Linked DNA regions of Homo sapiens: region 1 is linked to region 2. The links come from fine-mapping of genetic effects on gene expression. A gene starts in region 2. The other region holds a variant in brackets. All regions are shown on one strand. Distances are from middle to middle.

Evidence for each region.
Region 1: its variant is fine-mapped to the expression of PIGW in whole blood (INTERVAL, PIP 0.97).

Annotation. Positions count from the first base shown.
Region 1 is chr17:36,572,437-36,583,183 of GRCh38, forward strand. GGNBP2 (gametogenetin binding protein 2) reads left to right here. Exons shown (of 14, transcript NM_024835.5): 7 at 5,547-5,750; 8 at 6,809-6,983; 9 at 8,908-9,102. It also overlaps the pseudogene RPS2P50. Among named protein-coding and RNA genes, the nearest start is that of DHRS11, 14 kb to the right of the region's middle. The variant G/T (reference allele first, on the strand shown) is at 4,621.
Region 2 is chr17:36,528,693-36,539,439 of GRCh38, forward strand. PIGW (phosphatidylinositol glycan anchor biosynthesis class W) reads left to right here and starts at 6,295. Exons shown (of 2, transcript NM_001346754.2): 1 at 6,295-6,900; 2 at 8,402-10,611. The coding sequence starts at 8,410. The coding sequence ends at 9,924. It overlaps MYO19 (myosin XIX), which reads right to left and starts at 6,176. Exons shown (of 26, transcript NM_001163735.2): 1 at 6,069-6,176; 2 at 5,261-5,412; 3 at 3,835-3,989. The coding sequence starts at 3,846. RefSeq lists an enhancer at 4,867-5,542.

The DNA.
Region 1 (10,747 bases), 44 kb after region 2:
TCAGCATTTTGGGAGACTGAGGTGGGCGGATTGTTTGAGCCCAGGAGTTCAAGACTAGCCTGGGCAACATGGCCAAACCCTGTCTCTCCAAAGAATACAAATATTAGCCATGCGTGGTGGCACACACCTGTAGTCCCAGGTACTCAGGTGGATGAGGCGGGGAGGGTCACCTGAGCCTACTAGGGAGGTTGAGGCTACAGTGAGACAAGAGTATGCCACTGCACTCCAGCCTGGGCAACAGAGTGAGACCCTGTCTCAAAAAACCGTGAAACATAAATTTACCTTTCAAACAGTTTTTAAGTGTACATTATAATTTTGTTAACTATATGCACATTGTTGTACAACAGATCTCTAGAACTTTTTCATCTCAACTGAAACTATACGCATTGAACAACACCTTTTTTCTCCCCTCACCCCCTAGCAACCACAATTCTTCTTTCTGTTTCTGAGTTTAATTATTTTAGATAGCTCATATAAATGGGATAATGTAGCACTTGAATTTTTGTGATTGGCTTATTTTACTTAGCCATTATCTAAGACAATACTTAGATAATGTCTAAGATTCATCTATGTTGTAGCATATGACAGGATTCCCCTCTAAAAGCTGAATAATGTCACAATACTGTGACATTATTTAAAAATGGGCAGTGTCATAGTATATGTGATATTATTCACTTTTCTTTTTTCTTTTTTTTTGAGACAGTCTCGCTCTGTTGCCCAGGCAGGGGTGCAGTGGCTTGATCTCGGTTCACTGCAACCTCCGCCTCCCGAGTTCAAGTGATTCTCCTGCCTCAGCCTCCTGAGTAGCTGGGATTACAGGCACACACCACCACACCTGGCTAATTTTTGTGTTTTTAGTAGAGACAGGGTTTCACCTTGTTGGTCAGGCTGGTCTTGAACTCCAGACCTCAAGTGATCCATTCGCCTCGGTCTCCCAAAGTGCTGGGATTACCGCACCTGGCTATTCACATTTCTTTGTCCATTCATACATTGATGGACATTGAAGGTTGCTCTCACATTTCGCCTGTTGTCAATAAATGCTGCAGTGAACATGAGTGTGCAAATATCTCTTCAAGATCCTTGCTATCAGTTCTTTTGGATATATACCTAGAAGTGGGATTCCTGGATCGTATGGTAGTTTTATTTTGAAGAACTTCCGTACCGGTTTCCATAGCAGCTGTACCGTTTTATATTCCTGCCAGCAGTGCATAAGGGTTCCAATTTCTTCACATCCTCAGTAACACTTGTTATTTGTTGTTGTTGTTGTTTTGATAGTGGTCATTCTAGTTGGTTTAAGGTGATATCTCATTGTGTTTTTGATGTGCATTTTCCTGATGATTAGTGATGTTGAGCATCTTTTCATATGTTTGCTGGCCATTTGTATATAATCTTTGGAGAAATGTCGATTCATGCTTTGCCCATTTATTTATTTACTTTTAAGTTATTTTATTTTTTTGACAGGATCTTCTTTGTTGCCCAGGCTGGAGTGCAGTGGCATGATCACGGCTTTGCCCATTTTTAAATTAAGCTATTTTTTTTGTGATTGAGTTCTAGTGGTTCTTTATATTCTGGCTATTAACCCCTTATTCAATATATGGTTTGCAAATATTTTTTCCCATTCTTTGGGTTGCCTTTTTACTCTGTTGATCATCTTTGCTGTGCCAACGTTTTTAAGTTTAATGCATAGTCATGTGCTATGTGATGACATTTTGGTCAGTGATAGACCACATATATGACAGTGGGCCCGTAAGATTATAATGGAGCATACTGCGTTGCAGATCAAGTAGAGGAAATGATTAATATTCAGTGATGGTGCTGGGACATTTGGTTTTCCATGTGAAAAAAATATAAATAAAAATATGTATACTACCTAGGTTTGTGTAAGTACACTCTGATGTTCGCACAGCAACAAAATAGCTAACAATGCATTTCTCAGAATGTGTCCCATTGTTAAGTGACACGACTGTAGTCTTTTTTTTTTTTTTCAGGCTTAATTCACTTTATTTTTCTTGTATAAAAACCCTGTGTTGTAGCCACAGCTGGAGCCTGGGTCCTCTGCATGGAGACTCTGGTGTGGGTCTTGACGAGATGGTCAGTGAATTCCTGACAGGAAGACTTGATGAATACAGTCTCCTTCCAGAGGTCGGGGGTCAGGTAGCTGTAGGTCTTAGAGATGGCATCAAAGGTGTCCTTGGTATAGTTACCCAGGGCGGCAGTGTAGCCCCTGGCTAAGGTGTAGCAGTCATCAATACCAGCCATCATAAGCAGCTTCTTGGGTACAGGCACTGAGACGATGCCAGTGCCTCTGGGCGTAGGGATGAGGCGCACCAGCACAGAGCCGTGGTGGCCTGTCGGCTTGCAAGGGATGGTGTGGGGCTTGCTGATCTTGTTCCCCCAGTAGCCTCTGTGCACAGGGACAATAGAGAGCTTGGCCAGGATGATGGCCCCGTGGATGGCAGTGGCCACCTCCTTGGAGCACTTAACACCCAGACCGATGTGGCCATTGTAGTCCACGATGGCAACAAACATCTTGAACCTGGTGCGCTGGCCGGCACGGGTCTGCTTCTGCACTGGCATAATCTTCAAAACCTCGTCCTTGAGAGAGGCCCCCAGGAAAAAGTTAGTGATCTCAGATTCCTTCATGGGCAGGGAGAAGACATACATCTCCTCCAGGGACTTGATCTTCATGTGCTTGACCAGGCGGCCCAGCTTGGTGATAGGCATCCACTCTTTATCCTCGGCCTTGCCTCCATGAGCTCTGCGGCCTCAGCCGCGGCCTCAGCCCCAGCCCCGGCCCCGGATGCCACTGCCGAAACCTCCACGGAAGCCACTGCATTTCCCCATCCCAGGCGATCCCCACCACCGGCTGCCACCAGCATCATCTGCCATTTGGTGTTTTCTCAGAGAAGCATCTATTTTTGTTTTTGTTGTGCATGTGTGCTTTTGGTGTCATAGCCAGGAAATCATCACTTAGTCCAGTGTCATGAAGAGTTTCCCCTATGTTTTCTTCTAGTTTTATGGTTTTCAGATGTTAACATTTAGTTTTTAATCCATTTTGTGTTAATTTTTGTATATTTTTGCCCATATTTAAAACTTTAGTGAAATAACATAATTTAACATTATTTGTCAGCATTGTTGCCTCTGTTTACCAAGTGGGCTTAGAGCCTCTAATGTAACATATATATATATATATATATATATATATATATATATTTTTTTTTTTTTTTGAGATGGAGTTTCGCTCTTCTTATGCAGGCTGGAGTGCAGTGGTGCGATCTTGGCTCACTGCAACCTCTGCCTCCCGGGTTCAAGCAATTCTCCTGCCTCAGCCTCCTGAGTAGCTGGGATTACAGGTGTATGCCACCACATCTGGCTAATATTTGTATTTTTAGTAGAGACGGGGTTTCACCATGTTGGCCAGGCTGATCTCGAACTCCTGAGCTCAGATGATCCACCCGCCTTTGCCTCCCAAAGGGCTGGGATTACAGACGTGAGCCACCGCGCCCAGCCCATATCTTCATTTTAAGAAACATTGTTATCTACTATTGGTCCAGCAAAACGTGTGTGCATGAAACAAAGATATGGCAGTAGAAGGGTAAATACTATAGTAAGAAGTCTAGGCCGGGCGTGGTGGCTGATGCTTGTAATCCCAACACTTTGGGAGGCTGAGGTGGAGGGATCACTTTGAGGTCAGAAGTTCAAGACCAGCCTGGCCAACATGGTGAAACCCCATCTGCACTAAAAACACAAAAATCAGCCCAGTGTGGTGGTGGGCGCATGCAATCCCTCCTACTCAGGAGTCTGAGGTACGAGAATTGCTTGAACCTGGGGGGCGGTGGTTGCAGTGAGCCATGATTGTCCCGCTGCACTCTAGCTTAGTTTAGGCGGACAGATCCTCTGAGTTCAAGAGTTCAAGACCAGCCTGGCCAACTTGGCGAAACCCTGTCTCTACTAAAAAATACAAAAAATTTGCTGGGTGTAGTGGTGGGCGCCTGTAATCCCAGCGACTCGGGAGACTGAGGCAGGAGAATCGCTTGAACCCAGGAGGCAGAGGTTACAGTGAGCCTCGATGGCGCCACTGCACTCCAGCCTGGGCAACAGAGAGAGACTCTGTCTCAAAAAAAAAAAAAAAAAAAAAAAAAAAAAAAATATATATATATGTGTGTGTGTGTGTGTGTGTGTGTGTGTGTGTGTATATGTATATATGTATATGTATATATATGTATATATATGTGTATATATATATATATAGCATAGGCAACTTAAACCATGCCAGAGGGAATTGAAAATAGGGACCTACAGGAGAAACAAGAAAGAATGAATACTAGTTGGCTCTACTCAATAGGAAGACCCAGGGAGAAGTTGGAATTAACTCAGATTTCCAGCCTGGGTGACTCTGAATGGCTGTGAATGGCAGTGTTCTTATTAACAGGGATTGAGAAGGCACATAGGAATAGAACAGCATTACCCTTGGACAGTGAATTTAAGGTGTTGCCTATTGGACATCTGCCATGTCTTGTCACTTTTCGATATGGGTCTGGCCCTCAGGCAATAGCAGAGATTTGAATGGAGCTGTAGAGTCACAAGTCATCTTTATAGACATGTTAGTTGAAGCCATAC[G/T]CATAGATGAGCTCATCTGGGAGATGAATTTAAATCAAAGAGATCAAAATTTCCTTGTTTCACTTAACTAATCTTCTTAGCCATTTACTCTTATTGTGAGCCTGGCTTTTCCACCTGACCAAGTTCTTCTTGTTCCAGGAATTCAAAGATAAAGAAACCAGGCTCTATTATTTCTTTCTGATTGATTGATATTTGGTTTCTAAAAGAAATTTTCTTCCTTCTCTACATTCACAAACTCTTCTATTCTTTTGCCACATTTTATACACTTAAGTTTAAACCAGTTTCCATGTATATTTTGTCTATATTATGTTTGTTATTGAGAAATAGGCATTTTTGGGAAGAAAGAATTTGGCATTTTGGAAATAATCAGAAAATTAAAAAATGCACACACCACTTTCCCATTCTTCTCCCCACCCCAACCCCTACCCCTATCCTCAAATGCTTAGCTAGTGAAATATTAAAATGTTGTAATAGAAATTGGAGTCAAGGTCTCCTTGCTGAAGAGACCATCTATTTTCAGAGACTGGAAGGAGAGAGAACAAACCAATCAAGAGTCATTGGTTTGTTGCCTCTATTGTTTTATTTCTGACCTGCGCAAATAGCTTTTGAAGTGGAGATATGCTAGTTCTTGGCAACTAATACTTTTCTGGGCATGCATTTTATGAAATAATAGGTATGTATCTGCCTCATTCTTTTAGGCTATGTGTTTCTCTAGTTTAAAAATAATTTGCCAATGAAGGTCTATCTGTATTTATGCAATCCCTAAATTTGTATTTACCTTATGTGCGTATGTTTTAAATGTGTGTATGGAGGCTTATTTTGGATGCTGTAGATGGGAGAGAGTGCCATCATCTAGTACACTGTTATATGCCACAAGAAATAATTGCACAGCCATTTCTTAATTTTAAGGTTTTTCTTTTCAACAGGTTTTGCACTGATTGCAAAAATAAAGTCCTCCGAGCATACAATATCCTTATTGGTGAACTTGACTGCAGCAAAGAAAAGGGCTACTGTGCTGCACTTTATGAAGGCTTGCGGTGCTGTCCACATGAACGACACATACATGTTTGCTGTGAAACAGACTTCATTGCACATCTTTTGGGTCGTGCTGAGCCAGAGTTCGCAGGAGGGTATGAGTATGTAATTTGCTAGAATGGGCTATCTAGCGCTTTGCTTCATTTTATTACTGAAAGTTTATTTTCATCACCTTCTGCCTCAGTACATATGATATATGTATAAATTAAAGTATGCCTGTAAAGATTTTGCTTCTCTTTAAAGTATGCATTTCTTAATTGACTGAAAATAGGGAAAAACTGTTCTCTGGTGTTTGGTTCAGTCCTCTGCTAGTTCTTGCTTGAAGGGAGGCAGGCTTTTTTGGCTTTCATTGTTACAGACTATCATTTTCATTTGAAAATGATTAGAAGGGATTTTTCTCCCTCTATCCATGCATTATCATGTGTAAATTTTATTCACAATAATGGTTTTTGCATAAGTCAGATCTTTGCAGTAGGGGATTAAGAAATGCCTTATTGAATGTAATTCACGAACTGTGTATATTATATTATTATTACTACACAGAAACCTAAAGTAGTATCTCTGGCTTTGTTGTAAAAATAAAATCAGATGATGATGTTAATAGAATAAATCAAATGCATTTCCTTTTGTATTTAGGGTATCAACCCTCATTTGAGTGCCTACTTTCTGCTAGAATACAAAGGGCTTTTTTATCGCCAAAGTTCTGTGAACACTTGTAAAGACTGGCCTGGTGGAGGACTCTTGCCCATGATGAATCACTTTGGCATTGCCTTTCTCAATTCCTCCTCAAAACAAAAAACCTAAAGAAGGAAAAAATGTTTTGCTATAATTGGAAAGTAAAAGGAACTGTTGTGTCTACTATGAGCTGGACACTTCTATGTGATTGCTTTGTGCCCTAAAACCCATCTTTTTAGAGCCAGTTCCTGAATTACTTTATTTTTAGCAATACGAGGACTAAATTCTACTTGCATGTGTATTTCTCATTGGTTGTGGACATGCATGCTTGTATAGCAACATATACGTTGAGTGTAAATGTATAACTGTCTTGTTACTAGGTAAGCACATTGTGTTTAAAACCTGAACTTGCAGCTGTGTTATCCATCTTTTACTGTTTCAGTTAAAGGTATTAGTGTGTGATTATTCCCTTTTATAGGCGAAGAGAAAGGCATGCAAAGACAATAGATATAGCTCAAGAAGAAGTTCTGACCTGCTTGGGAATTCATCTTTATGAAAGACTGCATCGAATCTGGCAGAAGCTACGGGCAGAAGAGCAGACATGGCAGATGCTTTTCTATCTTGGTGTTGATGCTTTACGCAAGAGTTTTGAGGTAAGAACAGTGGGCTGTTCCAGTATCTCAGATTGCTTAGTCACGTTATTGGACTGAATCTTAATGTAAGCCACCAGTGCCTAAAAGGACTGTCCATCACTGATAGAGCTTCATGGATTTGGCTGGATATTGTTACATGGCTTTGGGTTGGAGTGGGGGTGGTCTAGGGAACTGGGATTTAGAAGAAGTTGATGGATTTAAAAAAATGTTTTTAATCCTGTTAACTTTGCTAGCTTTGGTTTTTAGACTTTCTCAGAGTAGAAAACTGAAGATGTTTAATAAGATGCTGCTATGAAACATAACTAGTGAGGCTGGGCATGGTGGCTTACGCCTGTAATCCCAGCACTTTGGGAGGACGAGGCAGGCGGATCACCTGAGGTCAGGAGTTTGAGACCAGCCTGACCAATATGATGAAACCCCGTCTCTACTAAAAATACAAAAATTAGCTGGGCGTGGTGGCGGGCACCTGTAATCCAGCTACTTGGGAGGCTGAGACAGGAGAGTTGCTTCAACCTGGGAGGTGGAGGTTGCAGTGAGCCAAGATCACGTCACTGCACTCCAGCCTGGGCAACAAGAACAAAACTCCGTCTCAAAACAAAAACAAAAACAAAAACAAAACAAAAAAAACACACATAACTAGTGAAAAGTTAAATGCCCCCAAGGATTAAGCAGGAAATGTTAAAACCTTCAGTGAGTTTCATTTTGCCTGCTAATGTCCAGTAGTATGAAGTAAATGCTGTGTGAATGCCATGGTATAAGGACTATTTTTCTTTCTTTCTTTTCTTTTCTTTTCTTTTTTTTTTTTTGAGACGGAGCCTCGCTCTGTTACCCAGGCTGGAGTGCAGTGGCATGATCTCGGCTCACTGCAAGCTCCACCTCCTGGGTTCACACCATTCTCCTGGCTCAGCCTCCCGAGTAGCTGGGACTGCAGGCGCCCGCCACCACGCTCGGCTAATTTTTTGTGTATTTTTAGTAGAGACAGGGTTTCACCATGTTAGTTAGGATGGTCTCAATCTCCTGACCTCGTGATCCGCTGCCTGCCTTGGCCTCCCAAAGTGCTGGGATTACAGGCATGAGCCACGGCGCCCAGCCCTTACTCGTTTTCTCTTTGTATTTTTGTACCTTCAGAGACTAGATCATCTAATCAGGTTAAATAGTTTTTTCATTATGTCAGTAAATGGTATGTTTACTTTTGTTGTGTTAAAATTCTGAAATTTAGGCCAGATATGGTGTCTCATGCCTGTAATCCCAGCACTTTGGGAGGCCAAGGTGGGCGGATCACTTGAGGCCAGGAGTTCGAGACCAACCTGGCCATGATGGCGAAACCCTGTCTCTACTAAATATACAAAAATCAGCCAGTGTGGTGGCGCATGCCTGTGGTCTCAGCTACTTGAGAGGCTGAGGCAGGAGAATCGCTTGAACCTGGGTGGTAGAGGTTGCAGTGAACTGAGATGGTGCCACTGTACTCCAGCCTGGGCGATGGAGCAAGACTCTGTCTCAAAAAAAAAAAAAATTCTGAAATTTAAAACTAGAATCTTGCTGGTTTGGAATAGGAGTGTGTATATTACCACAGAAAACAAAGGGACCGGGCACGGTGGCTCACGCCTGTAATCCCAGCACTTCGGGAGGCTGAGGCGGGTGGATCACGAGGTCAGGAGATCGAGACCATCCTGGCTAACACGGTGAAACCCCGTCTCTACTAAAAAATACAAAAAATTAGCCGGGCGTGGTGGCGGGCACCTGTAGTCCCAGCTACTTAGGAGGCTGAGGCAGGAGAATGGCGTGAACCCAGGAGGTGGAGCTTGCAGTGAGCTGAGATCATGCCACTGCACTCCAGTCTGGGCGACAGAGCAAGATTCCGTCTCAAAAAAAAAAGAAAAGAAGTTCTGACCAATATTCACCCTCAACCTTATTTTTATAATAGATGACCGTGGAAAAAGTACAGGGTATTAGCAGATTGGAACAACTTTGTGAGGAATTTTCAGAAGAGGAACGAGTAAGAGAACTCAAGCAAGAAAAGAAACGCCAAAAACGGAAGAATAGACGAAAAAATAAGTGTGTGTGTGATATTCCTACTCCCTTACAAACAGCAGATGAAAAGGAAGTAAGCCAAGAGAAGGTAATATTTCTTAATATCAACTCTTAAGTGTGTATGTATTGCTTGTAGATAGAAGTACAGGCCAGGTGTGGTGGCTCACGCCTGTGATCCCAGCACTTTGGGAGGCCCAGGGTGGAGGTATCACTTGAGCCTAGGAGTTTGGGACCAGCCTGGGCAAGATAGTGAGATCTCTATCTCTATTTATTTTATTTTATTTTTTTAATAAAAATAAAAAGTACAGTCGTCCCTTGGTATCTGTGGGGTTTGATTCCAGGACTTCCTGTAGATACCAAAATCTGCAGATGTGCAAGTCCCTGATGTAAAATGGTGTAATATTTGCATATAGTCTATGCACATCCTCCTTATACTTTTATTTCTGAGACAGGGTCTCACTCTGTCACCCGGACTGGAGTGCAGTGGCACAATCATGGCTCACTGCAGCGTTCATCTCCCAGGCTCATGTCATCTTCCCACCTCAGCTTCCCAAGTGGCTGGAACTACAGGCTTACCCCACCAGGCCCAGCTAATTTTTTGTATTTATTGTAGAGATGGCGTTTTACCATGTTGTTCAGGCTGGTCTCCAGCTTGTGGGCTCAAGCAATTCTCCCACCTCAGCCTCCCAAAATGCTACAATTACAGGCATGAACCACCGTGCCTGGCCTCTTGTATTCTTAAATTATCTCTAAATTATAATACCTAATGCAATGTAAAAGCTATGTAAGGCTGGGCATGGTGGCTCACGCCTGTAATCCCAGCTACTTGGGAGGCTGAGGCATGAGAATTTCTTGAACCCAGGAGGCAAAGGTTGCAGTGAGCCAAGATCGCTCCACTGCAGTCCAGCCTGGGCGACAGAGTGAAACTCTCTCAAAATAAATAAAAACTGTTTAAATAGTTGTTATACTGTATTGTTTAGAAAATAAGGACAAGAAAAAAGTCTGTACATGTTCAGTACAGATGCAGGTTGATTTTTTCCCCCCCAAATATTTTCGATTCTTGGTTGAATTTATGGATGCAGCACCCACAGATATGGAGGGTTAACTGTATGGCTTTTTGCTAGATTTGGGCATTTTTACTATGCTTTTCCAGATGTGAGCTCCTGCAGTTTTTATATCAGCTTTTTTCCTACTGTAGTCTGTATAAGCCAGAATTTTAATGTCATGTCTATGTTTTATTAAGACAATGTTGAGTAGTTATCTCTTTACCTGACTTTAATGTATTATTAGATCAAAGTCAAAATATAGAAAGCCACCTCTGTGCATGACCTAGAGCAGTTCTCAAGTTTTTGGTCTTAGGATCCCTTTACATTCTTAAAAATTAAGGTACTCAATGAGCTTTTGTTTATGTGGGTTATACTTACCAATATTTACTGTATTAGAAATTAAATGATAAATTTTAAGCTACTCCTTCAAAAATAATGTTAACTAAATATTTTTTCAAAAATAACTATTTTCTAAATAAAATGAGAGTGAGAAGAATGGTATTATACTATATATATTTTTTGCAAATATCTTTAATGTTCATCTTAAAAGGAATAAGCTAGATTCCTTTTTTTTTTGAGACAGAGTCTCGCTCTGTTGCCAGGCTGGAGTGCAGTGGCATGATCTCGGCTCACTGCAACCTCCGCCTCTCGGGTTCAAGCAATTCTCCTGCCTCAGCCACCCAAGTA
Region 2 (10,747 bases):
GTCACAGTTTGTTTATTCGTAAATAAAGGAAAATAAACTCAACTGACAAGGTTATTGGGAAGAAAAGAAGAGATATACAAAGCATTTAGTCAGTGCCCGGCATACAGCATGTACTCAACAAATGCTATCTCTTCTGCCAAGAGCTCCGGCCACTTGCAAGTAGCACTTCCAGGCTACTAGCCTTATTAGAAATAAGGCTATAGGAATGTTGCAAAGGAAAAGAACCATGGGTTAGGCCTTTTTGGGAAGAGACAGTTCAGCTTTTGATGTAAAACAGCTGTACCTTCTGAGAGAGGTAGCCCCATGTCTTCATCACCTGCCTTTTGTGGCTTAAATTTAGGCTGGCTAATGAATTGGTTCCCTTGGCCCGAGTCTGCTTGAGAGAAAGCCTGGCTCAGACGGCTGTCTGAGGTCAAGAATAAGCACCAAGGGAACAGGTCCTTTCTCCTCCCTTGCCTATCTTTTTTTTTTCCTTTCTTTTTTAAGAGATGGAGTCTTGCTCTGCTACCCAGGCTGCAGTGCAGTGGCATGATCATATCTCACTGCAGCCTCCAACTCCTGAGCTCAAGTGATCCTTCTGCCTCAGCTTCCTGAGTAATTGGGACTAGAGGCATGAGTCACCCTATCTTCCTTTGCCCATTCTTGATGTATCATCCCTCCACTTCCTCCTGTGGTCCCATTTCTCCTACTGTCTCCTTTGGGGATGCAGGAAAGACAGAGTGGGGGTTGAAGACAGGTATCTTGCTGAAATGTGCTTTTGAAGGAAGAGGTCTGTGATACAACAGGTGAATTTCCAATGAGAATGGTGAGCCTAAAATTTCAAATCTCTCATAGAAATAAGCCATGGTGGCAAATTTCCTCCAAGAGGCCCAGTAATGCATTTCTTCCAAAACTGTTGCCTGTTCTCTGAACTTTGGGCCCACTATAATGCACAAGGTAGGCTCTTGGCCTCCAGAGTAACTGCGGAGGTCAGAGCACAGCTATATCTATGCATATCCCTCTCCTTTTATGAAGGGGAAAAAAAAACCACCACTACACAAACCATTCACAAACACAGACACAATTTATGAAGAGTTCTGATCCAACCAGAGAGGCATCTGAGTATAGTGATCAAGTACCTGGACTTGAAAGTTAGTTGTCTGGCTCTGAATCCTGACTCTATCTCTTACAGTTATATACTCTTATGTTAATTTCTTAATCTCTTTCTGCCTCAATTCTCCTCATCTGGTCCCTGTAATCCCAGCTACTTGGGAGGCTTAGGTAGAAGAACCACTTGGGCCTAAAAGTTCGAGGCTGCAATGAGTTATGATTGTACCGCTGCACTCTAGCCTGGCCAACAGAGCAAGACCTTGTCTCTAAAGTAAAAAATAAAAATAGAAAAATTTCCAGCTGGCCATAGTGGCTTAAGCCTGTAATCCCAGCACTTAGGGAGGCCAAGGTGACCCTGTCTCTATAAAAAATATTTAAAAATTAGCTGGGCATTATGGCATGTGCCTGTAACCCCAGCTATTCTAGAGGCTGAGGCAGGAGGGTTGCTTCAGCCCAGGAGGTCGAGGCTACAGTGAGCTATGGGGATATCACTGCACTGGGCAACAAAGTGAGACCCTGTCTCTAAATAATTATTTAAAGTTCTTTTCTGTAAAATGGGATAATGGTACCTACCTCACAGATACTCACAAGCACAAAAACACACGAAGGATTTAGAAAGGCCATCTGGAATCTGCCAAAAGGGGTTAGCTATTCTTCTTCTAAAAGTGGCTTTTTTTTTTTTTTTTTTTTTTTGAGACGGAGTTTCGCTCTGTCGCCCAGGCTGGAGTGCAGTGGCGCGATCTCGACTCACTGCAAGCTCCGCCTCCCGGGTTCACGCCATTCTCCTGCCTCAGCCTCCTGTGTAGCTGGGACTACAGGCACGCGTAAAAGTGGCTTTTGTATTTTTTTTTTTTTTTGACACAGAGTCTCGCTCTATCGCCCAGGCTGGAGTGCAGTGGCACAATCTCGGCTCACTGCAACCACTGTCTCCCAGGTTCAAGTGATTCTCATGCCTCAGCCACCCAAGTAACTGGGATCACAGGCATGCACCACCATACCTGGCTAGTTTTTGTATTTTTAGTAGAAATGGGGTTTTGCCATGTTGGCCAGACTGGTCTTGAACTCCTGGCCTCAGGTGATCTGCCCGCCTCGACCTCCCAAAGTATTGGGATTACAGGCATGAGCCACCGTGCCTGGCCTTATTTATTTATTTATTTAAGAGACAGGGTCTCACGGCTGGGTGCGGTGGCTCACCCCTGTAAAAGCACTTTGGGAGGCTGAGGCAGACGGATCACTTGAGGTCAGGAGTTTGAGACCAGCCTTGTCTACAGAGTGAGACTCCATCTCTAAAATAAAAATAAATAAACAAAAATTATTAAAAAAAATTTGGAGGCTGGGCGCGGTGGCTCACGCCTGTAGTCCCAGCACTTTGGGAGGCCGAGGTGGGTGGATCACGAGGTCAGGAGATCGAGACCATCCTGGCTAACACGGTGAAACCCCATCTCTACTAAAAAATACAAAAAATTAGCCAGGCGTGGTGGCCAGCACCAGTAGTCCCAACTACTCGGGAGGCTGAGGCAGGAGAATAGCATGAACCTGGGAGGCAGAGATTGCAGTGAGCCAAGATCAAGCCACTACACTCCAGCCTGGATGACAGGGTGAGACTCCATCTCAAAAAAAAAAAAAAAAAAAAAATTGGAAAATAGAGATAAGCAAAAGGAGCATAAAAATCCATAATCATACTACCCAGAAATAACCAATATTTTAGAGAATATCATAGGTTTTTTCCCCTACATACTTTAAAAACATTGAAAAGTATTATATTTTTGTGTAACTTGCTTTATTCCATTGTATTGATATACCTTTTTTTTAATAAGAGAAAAAAAAAGTTTAAAAATAAGCAAGAAAAAAGCCCAGAGCAGTCAACTGTTTTGCCCACTTCTTACCTTCAAACCTGTTCCAGGAGCCATATGGCTGGAAGGTCAAGCTGCAGTGTCTACTATGGCTCCCTTGATGCTGGCAGGCCCCACACCTGGCTGCTACCTTGCTGATGTCAGGCACTTACCTACCCAAGACTCCACTAGACTCTGAGCTCCTTGAGGGCAAGCACCAACCTCAACATCTGCCTCAGCCCAGTGCCTGGCAACACTTGGTAAAATAAAAAGTCAGCAAATAAGTACTGGCACTCTCTCAGGACCAAGAGTTACACATGAAGGATGATATGGGTATGAGAGAGAGCTCCGCTGTAAAAGGTGATTTGGAATCCTACAGGCCTGGGGCAACAGTAGCCTTTTCAGAGAGGCAGAGACATGGGGATCATGTAACCCATGATCCACTCATTAGAATCCTTCTATATTTCCTCATAGTCTCCTACATTTCTGCACAGGCTGACCTCTTTGCCTGGAGTGCTTATTTTCCTTCTCCAAGTGGCTAATTCTTTCTAGTTCTTTAAGGCTTAGCTTCAAGGAACACATCCTCTTGGAAGCCCCAGGCTTCTACTATGCCTCAACAATTCAGGTGGCAGGGACATCTCTCAGGACTTCCTCTGCAGAATCCCCAAAGTGCCCTAAGGATTCCCTTACCCATCCCACCTTACCTATCCCAAAGAAAGGAGCTAAAAACCACAAGACAGATTCAAATTAGGTATCAGGAAGAGTTTCTTGATGATGAGTAAAAGGCACTGGAGAGACAATTTGAGGAGAGAAAAGAGACCTTTAAGGGGGCTTTCCCTTCCTTCCAGGTTAGGGCTAGCAACAGATGCTGCAGGTGCTTGAGGGCCTGGGTTATCTAAGGTTGAGGTTTTACCTGCTGGAGCATCCTCCTTCAAAGTGGTCAGCCAGGGTTCTGGGTTGCAGGAGGTACAAGGAGTACTATCCACCTAGTCATGGGACCATGGGCTGGGGTATGGTTCCAACAAAGGGCTCAGTTCTGGAGGAATCTCAGACAAGTCACTCCAGCGCCTGTGGCATGAGAGAGAAGACAAGGACCACACACAGGTGAGGGCTTTTCTGGAGTGACTCACTCACTCCTTCCCACCTAGCAGAAGCAACCAAAATGAGATGCAAGGCAGGCCTGGGCGGAGAGTGGGCCTGTCCTTTCCCTTGCCAATTAGGAGACAGGGAAACTTTTATGAGAGCCTCAGAGGCTCCCTGGGCCAGTTTTATTACAGGGTTAGGGTTTGGGTTGGGGTGGGGCTGCAAACCCTCTGGGTCAGTGTGCCATGGAGGAGGAGTAAGACACTGGGGAGACAGAGAAGCCTTGTGCCCTATCCTCTACATTAGACAGAAATATCCTATTTCAGTCGTTGGTGAGGAGGAGAGGCTGGAGTCATCTCTCGCTGCTCCAGGAAAGGTGTGGTGTGGTAGTTTATATCACAGTTCAATCACTCACTGGGTGTGTGATCCTGGGTCAGGCACATCACCTACCTCAATTTCTTACCTTGAAAATGGGGACAGTTAAATCTGCCTCATAAGGAGTGGTTGTGAAGGTCAATGAGGTCATGGTTTGACAGCACCACACAAAGTACGAATCTGAGTATTCACTCAGAGGATAAACACTGTTAGCACTACGACTAAGGGTTGATGATCCATTTGGGAGCGCTAATCAGGTGAACGGTCCAGTGTCAACTTCAAGAAGGTGAGGATTTCAGGGAGATGAATCCATCTGGGAGGTGGGGTGTTGTGAGGCTGGGCCTAAGCCAATCTTTGAAGAATGGTTAAGTGACCCTCAGACTTGGAATTTTCTAGGCCTTGGCACCACCCCTAGCAAGGAGAGATGAGGCTGAGGGTGAAGCGTGCCTGCAATGGATTAACCCTGGTGGAGACTTTCTTGAGGCTCTGAATACATCAAGTCTTTAAAGAACCCAGGGATAGGGACTTCCATAGAAGCTGGAAAAAGGACAATTGAGGCGGAAACAGGTATCAGGACCGTGCTGGACCACTTAAGGTGTGGTGCTACAGCCCTAAAAGATCCTGACCCTGGACACTGACTGTACCCCATCCAAGGGACAGCCATGCAGAGGGCTCCAGAGAACAAAGCTCTTTCAACTGGGAACTCATCTCAAGCAATAGGTCCAGAGGGGCAGCACAACAGGTTTGGGGTTTGAATCCAAAACCCAAGGCCCCTGGCACAGAACCCAAGAACTAAGCCTCACTCTGTTTCCTCGTTTACAAAACGGAGTGATAATATCCAGATCTCACGGGGCTAAATGAAGCGTTAAAGGGGCTAATACCTGTGAAAGCGCTCTGCAAATGTTATTACGATGCAGCATCAGCTCCTAGCTGGAGTCAAGTGAGATTAGAGCAGTTTTCTCCAGTTCTCCCAGCTCCTGCTCCAGTCGGTTTCGCGGTTACCAGCCAAGAATTTCTGGAAAGGGTGTGAACACTGTGGGCAGAAAGGAGACGGTAATGAGTAAATGGAACACCGAATCAAGGCAAGTGGCAACCTGATCACCAGTCCCTCCTTCTCAGACTGTTTCTTTCTAGGCATGGAGGACAGTGGGAGGGCAGACGCTGAGAAGCGCTGGGTAAGGATCTCATCAGTCCAGCTGGCTCCGCCCCCAGGTTCCCGGCGGGAACCGGGGACTCAAGGTCCGGGCGTCGTGCCGCAAACCCAGGGCTGGGATGCCGTTCCGGAAGCACCTGGCACGGGGAGAGTATGTCCTTCCCAGGAAGGTGGACGTGACCCCAGCCAAGGGCGCAGCTGCCCTGACACCTCCCGGGACCAGCCGCCCCCTCCCGGGGTCCTCAGCTGGGCGAAGAGTGGAGCAAGGACCCTCTCCCCCCAGGCCGCCCCCTGCCGGCCAGGTGGAAAGGTGGAGGGTGATCAAGAAAGACTTGTTTCAAGCAAGAGCCAAGAGCTGGGCTACCCCCTCGTGAGACACAAGAGGGTCAAAAGGAAAAGGCAAAAAGGAGGGAAACGGCGCTTTGGAAGGGGAGGTGGAGACGCCTACTTCTTCCTCACCGCTGCGGGGCAAACTGGCCTCCCAAGCCCCTTCCGCGTCTGAAGGGCTTCAGATATAGGTTCGGGTTGACACTCACCGGTCCCACGGCCCGAGCCGCCGTGCTTCAGGCCCCCGCCCGGCCAGACTGGAAAGGCGGGCGGGCCAGGTCAGGCGGCGGGAAGAACACGGGCAGGAGAGAAAAGAGGAGGGGCAAGAGCGTGCAGTGAGGAAAGGAACCTGGGAGCGCCGAACCGCACCCCGTCGGCTGCGGCACTGCTAAGTGGCCGGGGGTCGGCCGGCTCCTCCCTAGGGGCGGGGCGAGCACTCGCGGCGCGGGGCGCGCACGTGGCTTGGCCGGGACGCCTGGTCCGGCTTGCTGGCTTCAACTACGGTGAGATGTTTTGCGACCCTGGGGTAAAATGAGGGTAAAGCGGCAGCTTCCCACGTTCTGGGGGAGAAGCGCGGAAGCACGGTTTCCTGGGCCTTCGGGCGACACCAGGACTGGGGGTCTTTCAGTAGAGGTCGCCGCGGCGGAGTCTTGTGCGAGTGCGGCGGAGTGTTGTGCGAGGCCGGCGGACACCATTACCCTGATAGGGCCTCGCCGTGAGGTCTGAGGGGCCGTGTGAGGTGCATGGCGCGCCGTTTCCTCTCCAGGCGCTCCTCTCAGGGCTACGGCCCTAGAAGATCTGGCCTGCACCAGCCCAAAGGACATGACAGGAGTGGGTAGCCCACGGGACACTGGCACGAGCGCCATGATGGGCGGAGACGCGCGGAATCGGCCGGCCCGGAAGTGCCAGCTGCCTGCGTCGGCCGGAAGTGCCGCGCGGGAGGCGGAAGCGGCTGGTTCCCGCGTGGTTTGGCGGGTGCAGCGGCAGTCCGGCTGCCCTTCCCACGTAGACCGTCTGCTGGGGGCGCCGGCACCATTTGGAGTACGTGAGGTATACGGGTAGGGCGCGGCCAGGTCGGGCGTCTGTTAGGAAAAAGACTTTTTATTTTTATGTTTATTTTTTAAGAGACGGAGTCTCGCTCTGTCGCCCAGGTAGGAGTGCAGTGGCGCGATCTCGGCTCACTGCTGCCTTCCACCTCTGGGCTCAAGCGATCCTCCCGCCTCAGCCTGGCATTACAGGCGCGCACCACCACGCTCAGCTAATTTTTAATTTTTCTTTTTTTTTTTTTCACTCCTGGCCTTAAGCGATCCTCTCTCCTCCCAAAGCGCTAGGATTGCAGGCATGAACCACTTCTCTCGGCTAGGACTTTTATTTTTAATGGTCAACTGATTTGAGTTGGTTACTGTGAGATATTGTCACAGGTTCCAGACAGGCCATAATGCACGCATGCATTCACTTACTTATTCAGCTCATGGTACATTTAGAAACTCTAGGTTCATGTTTAACCAACAAATGTGTTCTTCCAGTATGCCGTTTTTCAGACAATGATGTGTGGCATTCAGAGGTGTTTTACAACCCTTAATAAAAGAGCAACTAACACTAGTATGTGCTATACATCCATTCTTAATGCACCCACCGTACCTACTTCCATCCTAACCTGAAAACATAGCTGTCTGTAAATGAGGAAAGGAGCAGCCTGGGGATCCAGAAATCACTGCAGGGGTCACGTTTTGTACCAAGGCAGTAGGTTTGGAGAGGCTCTGAACTGGAACCAAGGCCCCCAACTTCAAAATGTACTTGGCCCCTAGCGTTTGAATTTGCTTTAAGGTCATTAGTAAATCCTATTCAATTTGCATCAAAGAATCTTCATGATACGTACTGTGCTCCATAATAGAAATTCCCATCTGCCTATGATGCCATTCTCAGAGTTTATATCCCAAATTCGCTCTCTTTTCCTTTGCTTTTTCTTTTCCTTTTTTTTTTTTTTTTTTTGAGATGGAGTCTCACTCTGTGGCCCAGGCTGGAGTGCAATGGCTCACTCCAACCTCTGCTTCCCCGGTTCAACCGATTCTCCTGCCTCAGCCTCTAAAGTAGCTGGGATTACAGGCGGGTGCCATCACGCCTGGCTAATTTTTGTATTTTTAGTAGAGACGGGCTTTCACCATGTTGACCAGGCTGGTCTCGAACTCCTGACCTCAGGTGATCCTCCCACCTCGGCCTCCCGAAGTGCTAGGATTACAGGTGTGAGCCACCACGCCTGGCCCCAAATTCACTTTCTTTGTGAGTCTGTCTTGTACAGGGAATAGCTGAAGCTTTGTAACCAATAATTTAATATTATTAGTATGACATTTCTATCTGAACACATTAGTGTTAAGCTTCTTCCCACAATCCTTGGAAGGGGAATCACAAATCCTAGGTGAACTCATTAGGGCCCAAAGTTCTGCTCTGAAATCTAGTAATAAGAGTAAAATTAAGCCAGGTATGCTAATTACACAAGAATGCTGCTTTTCACAAATCCATTCCTTTGCTCTTGTTTTCACAGGAAGAAAAATGTCTGAAAAGCAGATGAAGGAAGCTTTTGTCAGTAACCTCAATGGAACCACCGTGCTGGAAATCACCCAGGGATTGTGCTTTCCTGCATTCTGTATCCTGTGCAGAGGGTTCCTGATCATTTTCTCACAGTACTTGTGTTCTTTTTCACCTACCTGGAAAACTAGATTCCTCACTGACTTTGTTGTCCTAATAGTTCCCATGGTAGCCACTTTGACCATTTGGGCTTCATTTATCCTCCTTGAGCTTCTCGGTGTAATTATCTTTGGGGCAGGGCTGTTGTATCAAATATACCGAAGGAGGACCTGCTATGCCAGACTGCCTTTCCTAAAAATCCTTGAAAAATTCTTGAACATCAGTCTAGAATCAGAATACAATCCAGCCATCTCCTGTTTCCGTGTAATTACCAGTGCGTTTACTGCTATTGCTATTTTGGCTGTGGACTTCCCACTTTTTCCCAGAAGATTTGCCAAAACTGAGCTCTATGGGACAGGAGCAATGGATTTTGGAGTAGGTGGCTTTGTTTTTGGGTCTGCAATGGTTTGTCTAGAGGTCAGGAGGAGAAAATATATGGAAGGGTCCAAATTGCATTACTTTACAAACTCATTGTACTCTGTTTGGCCATTAGTCTTCCTAGGAATCGGACGATTAGCCATTATAAAATCAATAGGCTATCAGGAACATTTAACAGAGTATGGAGTTCACTGGAACTTTTTCTTTACCATAATAGTTGTGAAATTGATAACACCACTGCTGTTGATTATTTTTCCCCTAAATAAGTCCTGGATTATTGCCCTCGGCATTACTGTATTATACCAGCTAGCCCTTGACTTTACCTCACTGAAGAGGTTAATATTATATGGCACTGATGGTAGTGGCACACGGGTTGGTCTATTAAATGCCAACCGCGAAGGAATAATCTCTACCCTGGGGTATGTGGCAATACACATGGCTGGTGTGCAAACAGGGTTATATATGCATAAGAACCGATCACATATCAAAGACTTGATAAAAGTAGCCTGTTTTCTTTTACTGGCAGCTATTAGCCTCTTCATATCTCTTTACGTAGTTCAAGTAAATGTAGAAGCAGTATCTCGAAGAATGGCAAATTTAGCCTTTTGTATTTGGATAGTTGCTTCTAGCCTGATCCTTCTTAGTAGTTTATTACTGGGTGATATAATTTTGAGTTTTGCCAAATTTCTAATTAAAGGAGCTCTAGTACCATGTTCTTGGAAACTTATCCAGTCACCTGTTACAAATAAAAAGCATTCAGAATCTCTAGTCCCTGAAGCCGAAAGAATGGAACCCAGTCTTTGTTTAATCACAGCTCTAAACAGAAAACAGTTAATATTTTTCTTGCTGTCAAATATAACAACTGGCCTGATCAACCTGATGGTAGATACATTACACAGCAGTACCTTGTGGGCCTTATTTGTGGTCAATCTCTATATGTTTTCCAACTGTTTAATTGTATATGTACTATATTTGCAAGATAAGACTGTACAATTTTGGTGATCAGCAGGAGTAGGATATATAAGTATTTGGGCAATATTTAATGAGGAATATTAATTGTAAAGAAATTGTGCTTTTGGCAACAGTGTTAACCATATTTTATTATAAAATAGTTTCAGTCATCTAAACAGCAGTGATGCTTAATTATTTTTTTTTTTGAGACAGAGTCTTGCTCTGTTACCCAGGCTGGAGTGTAGTGGTGCCATCTCAGCTCACTGCAACCTCCACCTCCCGGGTTCAAGCAATTCTCCTGCCTCAGCCTCCTGAGTAGCTGGCACTGTAGGCATGTACCACCATGCCCAGCTAATTTTTATATTTTTAGTAGAGATGGGGTTTTGCCATATTGGCCAGGCTGGTCTCAAACTCCTGAACTCAAGTGATAACACCCACCTTGGCCTCCCAAAGTGCTGGGATTACAGGTGTGAGCCACCACACTGGGCCAATGCTTAATATTTTAATGTATCTCAACAATAAAACCAAGAAGAAACAAAGCCTTTTGACTTGTTAGAATGTATTAAGTAGTATTTTAAAGAAACTTTATAGTTGTGACATTGAAAGACTGTTGGGGTGGGGGGAGGAAAATTTTTACTTTCCATCTTAATGTAACCTTATGCTATTCTGTATTTTTACTGTATATTGCTTTTACAATAAATATAAAATGAAATGTTTATGTTGACATTTCAGTGTGAACTGTGGATTGTCAATACTTGTTTATTGCTCAATTTAAATTTTTGAATAAAACCTAGGACTAAGAAGCAAGTGTTTAAAATCAAACACTCCAATGTGCAGATGGGTGGATATAAAAAGAAAAATTTTAAAAATAAAA